2 linked regions of the Homo sapiens genome follow. The protein of the gene in region 1 purifies or fractionates together with the protein of each later gene. This does not show direct contact. Each region holds a gene or a part of one and is shown in the gene's direction. Other genes may lie near its edges.

Evidence for each region. Proteins that work in one complex are often made in the same cells at the same time.
Region 2: the proteins of ZBED1 (region 1) and USP22 purify together in Homo sapiens (affinity purification with mass spectrometry; 2 studies listed by BioGRID and IntAct, with this or other methods). This does not show direct contact.

What each region holds. Positions count from the first base shown.
Region 1 is NC_000023.11:2,493,750-2,498,871, reverse strand, and holds part of ZBED1 (E3 SUMO-protein ligase ZBED1), read left to right. Parts: intron 1-5,122.
Region 2 is NC_000017.11:21,014,990-21,020,111, reverse strand, and holds part of USP22 (ubiquitin carboxyl-terminal hydrolase 22), read left to right. Parts: intron 1-926; coding exon 927-1,028; intron 1,029-2,000; coding exon 2,001-2,170; intron 2,171-4,212; coding exon 4,213-4,360; intron 4,361-5,122. UniProt on the Homo sapiens protein: Deubiquitinase that plays a role in several cellular processes including transcriptional regulation, cell cycle progression or innate immunity.

The sequences.
Region 1 (5,122 bases):
TAAGTAATCAGTTGCAAGGTGAACGGTTTACAGCTGCTGAACAATTGTGTGGAGTCTCGCAGAAGATTATGTTTATCCGGGCAGTTTTGCTTACAGAAAGGTCCCCTTAAACCTCCTTAAGGGCCTGTGTGGGCCCTGGCAGAAGAGGCCGGGGTTCCTGCAGCAGCTCACCAAAATGCTGGCCTTTGAAAAACTTGCTCTTTGTGCATTAGAAAAAGGGCTGGAATCTTTTTTTTTTTTTTTTTTCCCATTTACTGATTAAACAACAACAGAAGGTTGTTAAAGAGGACGAGCTTCTGGTGAAGTCACGTGTCTGCCAAGGGAATCTGTACCCGGGTGTGTATCGAAACAGAATGGCCTTCTCTAAAGATTAACTTAAGTGGCTTGCCCTCATCGAGCCCCTTCCTATGTATGGATTAAAAATAATTTTCGATACCAGTGGAGGAATGCTGTTGTCCTTGGTCTGCTGGTGGCCAGCTTCCTAAACGGCATTTTTTATTTGCTTCTCTCTGGTAGGCCTTCGCTGTTGGTGAGGAAACATTGAACTTTGTCCAGGGCATTTGAGCTAAGCTGTTTGAATAACCAAGAGGGCCAATTTCCCCACTGCAGATTGGAAGCAAGGGCAGTTTTTTCTTAGAACTTCCAAATGGAGCGTGTTCTTCTTAGGTATCGTACAAAGGAAATGCCTGGGTTACACCTTCCACATGAGTTGACTTACATGGTATGAGAAGGAAGAAATTGTGGCTGGAATCCACTCCTAAATGGTGTCTTCTTACAGTTCATCATGGAAAAACAAGATAATTACAAATTAATCATAGATGTTGGTCATGCCTTTACAGAGGGGGTTTAGAAGCAAATTGAGAATTCCCATAAGAGGGTCTGTCTCTGTGTTCTTAAGACTATATCCATGCGGCCCATTCAGTAAGTTGTATCTGTTGGTTGGATTTTAAAATAGATGATTTAATCAGTGCATTTAATATCCTAATATGGCATCAAAACTTGAACATTGATATGGCCTGAAATCTGTTGAAAATGATCATATTGAGTAAAGAAAGTCTCTACCCACCGGTATTAATAACAGGGTGATCTGTTTAGAAATTACATTTTCTCTGATACATCAATGAGTTTTGCAAAGGAGAGAAAATTGATGGTACCTGTAGTCAAGTCCAGTTCCAATACTGCCACAGAATTTTTCTTAAAAGTTCTATTGTAAATAATAGGCCACAGAATATTCCTTCACTTTCTGGGATGCAAAATGGATTCGTAAATGCTGTACCACAGGAGTGAGTATTTACAAAAAATATGCCAACTGGCCCACTTACAAAGCTATTTATAGAAGTCCTACTTTTCAAACTATTTTTTTTTTAACCTGTAAAGGGAAAGTTAATTCTTGTTGGTTTTATGAGTAGTGAACAGTGGCTATTAGAAATCAGGTAGAAGTAAAAACAGCAGTTTTCCAACTTCTTCTTCTTTTTCTTGAGACCAAGTTTCGCTTTTGTTTCCCAGGCTGGAGTGCAATGGCGTGATCTCAGCTCACCACAACCTCTGCCTCCCGGGTTCAAGCGATTCTCCTGCCTCAGCCTCCCGAGTAGCTGGGATTACAGGCATGTGCCACCATGCCTGGCTCATTTTGTATTTTTAGTGAGATGGGGTTTCTCCATGTTGGTCAGGCTGGTCTCAAACTCCTGACCTCAGGTGATAGTCCACCTTGGCATCCCAAATTGCTGGGATTACAGGGGTGAGCCCCTGCCCCCGGCCTCCAATTCCTTGATCATAGAATCTCTTTCAAAAAAAATGAGGACCCCAGACAGTTTTTGTTTTTGTGGATTATAACAGTCAATAAGTCATCCTGTTAGACATTAAAACAGAAATTTAAAACATATTTAACAATCTATTTAAAAGTAATGGTAACAGGCCAATTACATGTTACATACAAAAATGTATGTAATATATTTATTGTTTTTATATTTTATTTTTATTAAATATATATATTTTTAGAATAATTTATACTTTTCTATAAATATAAAATACAAATAAGTTATATTTATATAATTTAGATGTAAATAAAAACAATTGATATTTTTATATAAATATATAAATGTGTACACTTATGGGGCACAGTGTGATGCTTTGCTGTATGTTTGCATTGTGGAATAATTAAACTAATATCTATCACCCGCTATTTTTCCTTTGCGGTGGGAACATTTAAAATCTCTTTTAGCTATTTTTGTTTTTTATTTCCATAGGTTATTGGGGAACAGGTGGTGTTTGATTCCATGAGTAAGTTTTTTAGTGGTGATTTGTGAGATTCTGGTGCACCCATCACCCAAGCAGTATACACTGCACGCAAGACATTTAAAATCTCTATTGGCGGGCCGGGTGCGGTGGCTCATGCCTATAATCCCAGCACTTTGGGAGGCTGAGGCGGGTGGATTGCCTGAGCTCAGGAGTTTGAGACCAGTCTGGGCAATACAGTGGAACCCCATCTCTACTAAAATACAAAAAATTAGCTGGGTGTGGCAGTGTGCGCCTGTAGTCCCAGCTACTTGGGAGGCTGAGGCAGGAGAATGGTGTGAACCTGGGAGGTGGAGGTTGCAGTCAGCCAAGATTGCGCCACTGCACTCAAGCCTGGGCAACAGGGCGAGACTCCGTCTCAAAAAAACCAAAAAAACAAAAAAACAAAAACAAAAATAAAAACCTCTTTTAGCTATTTTGAAATATGTAATACACTATTAACTATCGCCACCACGCTGTGCAGTAGGTCACTGAAACGGATTCCTCCTGTCGAACAGAAACTTGGTACCCTTTGGCCATGTGCTGTATGTTTTTTAAAAGAAAAATGATTGTCATTTCCAAAATAACAAAAACCTAGGGAGAAGAGTGGCTGAGTTTTAGGGTTTTGTCAGTCTCATCCATAAAGGGACGGATGGCGGCTGGCTCCTTCCTCTGCTTCTTCACACTGGTCTCTTGCGACGTGTCGTTCTGGTAAGAGTCATGTGAGGCACATCCACTGGCCTCTCATGGATGTGCAATTGGAAACGTGAAATCGCCGGCCCCCTGAGAGCGTTTTGGGGAGTGTCCCCCCCAAACCCCCCTCCCCCCGCACTGGGGATGCTGCACCAGTCTTGAAGAATGAGGCAGTGAGAGGCTGGTTTACAGCAACCTTTATTCGTGGCCTTGTGTGCTCGGAAGCGCTGCAAGGGAGGAGGAAGGAGGAAGGAGGGTACTCACTGCAGAAGGTCAGCTCTGCTGTGGCTGTTACGTGGGTTCAGGTGGAACCCACCTACTGTGTGGACGGTTCTTTACCTGGGAATCCCATGGAATTCTGACAGCAGGAGACGTGGGAGGGAGCTTCTTGTTTCTCCTTCCAGGAGTCACTTGGTTAGGGGTTTGGGAATTTTGGCTCTTAGTACAAAACTTCACTCCAGGTACTAGACCTGTTTCAGCCAAATGATGATCATCATAATAGAATAGAAACCTTTGTTCACCTAAATAATAACAATAATATTAATAATAATAGAATATAAACCTTTGTTCATGGTACTGGGGCGTCTTTCAGCCCAATAATAATAACAACAATAGGAATAATGATAATAATGATAAAATATAAACCTTTGCTTCACGTCCTGGAACGTCTTTCAGCCAAATAATAATAATAATATTAATGATAATAGAATATAAACCTTTGTTCAGGGTACTGTGACTTCTTTCAGCCCAGTAATAATAATAATAATAGTAATAATGATAATAATGATAGAATATAAACCTTTGCTTCATCTCCTGGAACGTCTTTCAGCCAAATAATAACAATAATAATAATAATGACAATAGAATATAAACCTTTGTTCAGGGTACTGTGACCTCTTTCAGCCCAGTAATAATAATAACAGTAGTAATAATGATAATAATGATAGAATATAAACCTTTGCTCCAGGTCCTGGGAGCTCTTTCAGCCAAATAAGAATAATAATAGAATATAAACCTTTGTTCACAGTACCAGGACCTCTTTCAGACCAACAATAATGACAGTAATAATAATTATAATGATAATAGAATATAAACTTTTCTTCTAGGTACTGGGACCTCTTTCAACCAAATAATAATAGTGGAATATAAAACTTGGCTCTAGGTACCAGAACCTTTTTTCAGCCAAATAGTAATAATAAGAATAGTATTAATAGAAAACAGACCTTTGGTCCAGGTACTGGGACACCTGTGAGCCAAATAATAATAATAATGATAATAATAGAACATAAACCTTTGACTGAAGTGCCAGAACCTTTTTCAGCTAAATAATAATAATAAAATATAAACTTTTGTTCCAGGTACCCGGACTTCTTTCAGCCTAATAATAATCATAGAATATAAACCTTTACTACAGGTCCTGGCACCTTTCTCAGCCAAATAGTAATAAAATAGAATATAAACTTTTGTTCTGTTACTGGGACCTCTTTCAGCCTAATAACAAAAGTAATAATAATAGAATAAAAACCTTTGCTCCAGGTTCTAGAACCTCTTTCAGCCTAATAATAATAATAATGATAGAATGAAAATTTTTGTTCCAGGTGTCGAGACCTCTTCCAGCCTAATAATAATAATAATGTAATAATATAAGCCTTTGCTACAGGTACCAGGACCTGTTTCAGCCAAATAATAATAACAGCAATGATAATAGAATATAAACCTTGGCCCCAGGCACTGGGACTTCTTTCAGTCAAACAATCACAATAATAATAATAATAATAGAATATGGATGTTTGCTCCAGCTTTCAGGACCTCTTTCAGACAGATAATAATAACCGAGTACAAACTTTTCTTCCAGGTATCGGGACCTCTTCCAGCCTAAAAACAATAGTAATAATAGCATATATATCTTTTTTTTTGTTTTCTTCTTTCTTTGAGACGGAGTTTTGCGCTTGTTGCCCAGGCTACAGTGCAATGGCGCCATCTCGGCTCACTGCAACCTCTGCTTCCCGGGTTCAAACGATTCTCGTGCCTCAGCCTCCCGAGTAGCTGGGACTACAGGCATGTGCCACTACCACGCCCGGCTAATTTTGTATTTTTAGTAGAGGAGGGGTTTCACCATGTTGTCCAGGGTGGTCTCAAACTCCTGACCTCAGAT
Region 2 (5,122 bases), on another chromosome or scaffold:
ATATGAACCTGACACCTGTTTTACATTCTTGCCTTGATTACTCTCCATTGAAAACACCCCAGTGTTTTGAGAAGGGAAGAATAGCAACAGGGGCTCTTTCAGTGAGCAGAATTATTTGTGTTTAACAAGTCTTCTCTGGAGAGCAATCTCTGACTTGTGTTCGCTGTTCTTTTCCCTCTCAGAAATTTAATAACATTGTGACTAAGTGTGGGTGTATTATTCTGTGCAGAGCACTTAAAGCACGGGCCTAAGAAATGTATGTCCAGGATTAAAATGGAATTCTTCTAGAATCATTTTATAATTCTGTCTATCCAACATGCTGTGTCTTTTAAAGTATTTTGAAGTATTCAGAAATGTTGGTTGGCATGGAACAAGTACTTCTGAGCGCATAGGGTGTGCGTTGAATGGAATACTATGCCAATTAGCATTTACCACCACTCTCTGAATATTTTGTGGCACACACGTTTTTAACTGTTGGATCTATCTTAGTTTGGTAACTCGACGCTGAGTTTATGCTATTTCAGTTTGCTGAAAAGTGCAAGCTCTCTCCTTCAATTTCACTTGTTTGCGGGAGAATCCTTCATGTAAGTTCCCATTGGTGCTGATGCTGCCATCTCTGTGCTGAAGGATGGAAGACATTTGAAAAACAACTGTTTTGGCATTGGCGTTGGGGTAGTTTTGACTGGAGGTGCTGCTTTTCTTGCAGGAAACGTAGCTCACATCCTCATACCCTCTGTGAGAAGCTCCTTTAAGTGTTGTGTGTAGCCCCTCTCAGCACAGTAGAGTTTGAGAAAGCCCTGGTGCTGTGGATGTTGCTCACTGAAATGCACCCTGACAGACAGCATAGCGCCACAGCTTTTATGTGTAAACACACTTGATGTGAAAATCTAGCTAATAGCGCTTGGAACTGTCCTTCATCTGCTTAGGCGTTGGAGAGAAGTTTTCAACTTGGGAACCAACCAAACGGGAGCTTGAACTGCTGAAGCACAACCCGAAAAGGAGAAAGATCACCTCGAACTGCACCATAGGTGGGTGGAGCGTGTCGTCACTCTCAGCTAGGCTTCTTTCCAGGGTTTAAAAGTAAATACAGAATTGTGGGTTTCTTAAGTCCACATGATTCTGTTGAAGCCCTGCATAACTGTCACTCATCAATGTGCTCAGCAACCAGCTCTTGAGCACCTGTTCTCTGCAGGGACCTGCAGTGGGCTTGGGGCGCAGAGTGATGCGTAGCAACAGCCCTGCCCTCACAGCCTTCAGCGTCTGTGTGGGTAAAGGGACTCAAGTTGATTTTGGCCAGGGTGAGGCTGGGCACAGTAATCTTCAGGGAGAGAAATGATGTGTGTGAGTGTAAGTGTTCGCTGAATTTTCTACAAATTGAGGGAATACCCTTTAAAACTTTTTCTTTTTCTTTTTTGAGACAGAGTCTTGCTCTGTTGCCCAGGCTGGAGCACAGTTCACTGCACCCTCTGTCTCCTGGGCCCAAGCGATCCTTCCACCTCAGCCTCCCAAGTAGCTGGGATTGCAGGTGCACACCACCATGTTTGGATAATTTTTGTGTTTTGCGTAGAGACATCTCACCATGTTGCCCAGGCTGGTCTCGAACTCCTGGGCTCCAGTGATCCTCATGCCTTGGCTTCCCAGAGTGCTGGGTTACAAGTATGAGCCCCTGCCCTGGCCCTAGAACATTTTTAAAAACCTGTTTTGTTTGTTCATTAGGCTTCACTCTGACCTGGCCTGTTGTCGTAGAAACTATATTTGTGTAATTCTGTCAAAGCATACAATGGCTGAAGTGGGAGGGGTCCATGGTGGTGGACATTCTTCAATACCGTTCATGTAAAAGTGGCATAAAAACTAGCAGAATGCGATATCTCATCGTGTTCTGGCTTGAATGAATGAATAAAAGAAAATGAGTATGTAGAGGTAGAGGAAGCCGCTGGGATCCAGCGACACCTGTGGTTCAGCACACAGGTAACTCCTGCTCTCTGGTGATTTGTGTCCAGGTCTGCGTGGGCTGATCAACCTTGGGAACACATGCTTCATGAACTGCATCGTGCAGGCCCTGACCCACACGCCACTTCTGCGGGACTTCTTCCTGTCTGACAGGCACCGCTGTGAGATGCAGAGCCCCAGCTCCTGTCTGGTCTGTGAGATGTCCTCACTGTTTCAGGAGGTGAGCGCCATTGACTTCTGCAGGGGAACATTTCTGTTACTTTGTTTTCACCTTCAAAAAAAAAATTTAAGGTGGACCATGATAAAGGAAGATACATTTAGAACCTTTTGTAGTAAGTTAATGTTTAATATACATGTCTATTATGGAAAACACAGTTTTCCAAAAAGGGAAGACCTGGCGTGATTTTTGGGGACGCACTGCTGACTCAGAACAAGGAGAAGCCCTTTGAGAGGCTTGTGGCAGAGACTTCCCTGGTGGGTGACATTTGTCTCTAAAGACGGGTGATTCTCCCCCTTCCTCTTCCTCCATGGTCTACCTTCCTGGCTCAGAAAGGCACGCATGTGTCACCCTCCTGTGTCCTCCTGGTATGCGAGTCTCCTCCACCGCCAGGTCTCTCTAAGCATGCCCCATCAGAGCCTCTGTCCTCATGAGCTACGCGCTGCACGTTGGCTGTTCCTGTGGGCTGCACGTGTGGCGTTCCTGTCCACTTCTGTCCCCGGCATCAGAGCATGGCAGCGTTCAGAGCAAGGCGTTCACGGCTGCCGCCTCAGCCCTCACCGGCTCCGTGACCTAGACATGCTTCTCAGAGCTGAAGCAGCTCAGTTACCTCAACTAATAAGCAGGCTGGTGCCTGTTCTTCAGGTGCCTTGCACAGGAGCCAGCCAACAGCCCTGGCCTGTTCCCATTCGTAACCTCTGCGAGAGATGCAGCCACGCCAGCTCACTCATGTCTGTCTGGTCACTGGTCGCTTTTGTGGGACAGCCACAGAGTTGAGCAGTTGGACAGAGGCTATCCAACCTGCAAAGCTGAAATTATTTACTGTCCAAGCCTTTCAAAAACAGATTGCCAGCCTCTGGTCGAGCCTAACCGATTTCCTCAAAGTACCTGCAATGTGCCATAACTGCTGGGGACACGGCCCAAATAGGAGAAAGGAGGGTGCAGCTGGGAAGTTGGTGGGTGGTTGTATCACTGACTTTAGTGATAAGCTCACTTGTGTTAGATTGTTTTTAGACTCCGGCTTGTTAAGGTGTAAATTACAGTCACACCCACCTTCTAGCCTATAGATAGATGAGTTTCGACGAATGCATAGTTGTGTAACTGCTGCTACTCAAGATGAAGAACTGTTACCTCTCCGAACTCCCTCGTGCCCCTCCGAAGTCAACCCCCAGTCCCCAGACCCTGGTAGCTGCCGATCTGTCTTCGGTCCCTTGAGTGTCCTTTACCAGCGCATCATACGGATGGATGCATGCAGGAAGTAGCCTTTCTGAATCTGGCTGTCCCTACTTAATGTAATACTGGGTGGATTCACCCGTGTCTTGCGTGCATCCATGATGTGTGCTTTCGATGTCTGAGTTGGGTTCCATTATGTAGATGGGTTATGGTTTAGTTGTCTGTTTCCCAGTTCAGACACATTTGGGTGGTCTGTGGTTTTGGGTTTTTTGATGAGAAATAAAACTGCCCTGAATTCTGTATTTGCACAGGCAAGACCCCTCTGTGGGTTCTGACCTGGGGAGGAAGCCGTGGGATGGAAGGTGTGCTGCTGGGTCTGCGGCTGGAGTTGAGCTGTTGGAGAGGACTGGCTGGCAAGCCCTCAGCTAATTGCCATTAGCCTCAGAGGCAGAGAATCCTGTGGCTGATGCTGGTGAATTCTGCATAATCACAGTGATGTGCTTCCCTTTGCGGAGGTGCTGGTGTCCATGGGCCTGAGTGGTTTGGCTAGTGCTTTGAGGAAACTAGTATTGGGCAAATCGAGTCACTTTTATTTGCATGTGATCTCATAGTAGCAAGTCATAATTCATTTTTTAGGCTTATATGTGGAAAACTAGATGGTAGAAAGGAAAAAATTCATATGAGGACTCGAAAAGTCCAGTGAGCCCAGATAAAAATAGACTTTGCAAAAAGTAGAAAAGTAAAATCCAAACATTTGTGTCAAATGAGCCACAGCCAATGGTAGGCATCTGATAAAGGTTTTGATTGTGTGTACTCTGTGTTCAGAGTCTACATTTATTCCTGACAAGGTTTCCTTCCCCGCCCTCTGGCAGTTTTACTCTGGACACCGGTCCCCTCACATCCCGTATAAGTTGCTGCACCTGGTGTGGACCCACGCGAGGCACCTAGCAGGCTACGAGCAGCAGGACGCCCACGAGTTCCTCATCGCGGCCCTGGACGTGCTCCACCGACACTGCAAAGGTGGGCCCTGGGCTCTGCACCCTCCACCAGGGCAGGATGTTTTCCTTGAAGGGGAAGGAAGCAAAGCGAGTGTATGCACTCGTGCAAAAAGGGGCACAGGTGACACATTCCATTGTTTTGTCATCATAGCCCTTGTCGTCATTTGTTTCTGAAGTCACCATAACTAATGACCTCAGAGAGGCTCCTCCTAGTTTATTTTTAAGAGGCGAGGAAGTAGTTCCAGCAGTATGACAGGTCCTCAGTGACCGATCACAGTGAACAGCAAACTCTTGGAGCCCTCTTGGGCCTGTGCTTTGAGGCCCCTGCCTGCCCTGGCATTTCTGGGACCCTGTGGGTTATCAGGCCTGAGGCTTCTGGACATCCCCCAAACACAACTTAATCACCCAACTGTCTCCTTCCCATTGGGGACTCTCCAAAAGGACTGATGGTTGCTCTGAAATAGCCAGAGAGCTGGGACACAGGACGAGCAAAGCTTCTCTTGGGGTCTCATTGGACCTGGGCCATCTCCCCCAACATAGTCCCACAGCCTGGCCCCAGGGTGGTACCCTGATGATTTTTCAGAGTTGTGTGGTGTTGGTAGTTGGCAGGGGCAGCTCTTAGCGCTGGAGGTGGGAGGCTGGGAATGAATGACTTGAGCCAAGATCGGCTCCTCCCCACTCCTCATGGTGGAGATCCCAGTGTGAGGGACCTGCAGCTGAAGTCTATCCATACAGGCAGAGAGACTGAGAGGTGATTCTCAGATGAGTGTGGGCTGGTCACTTG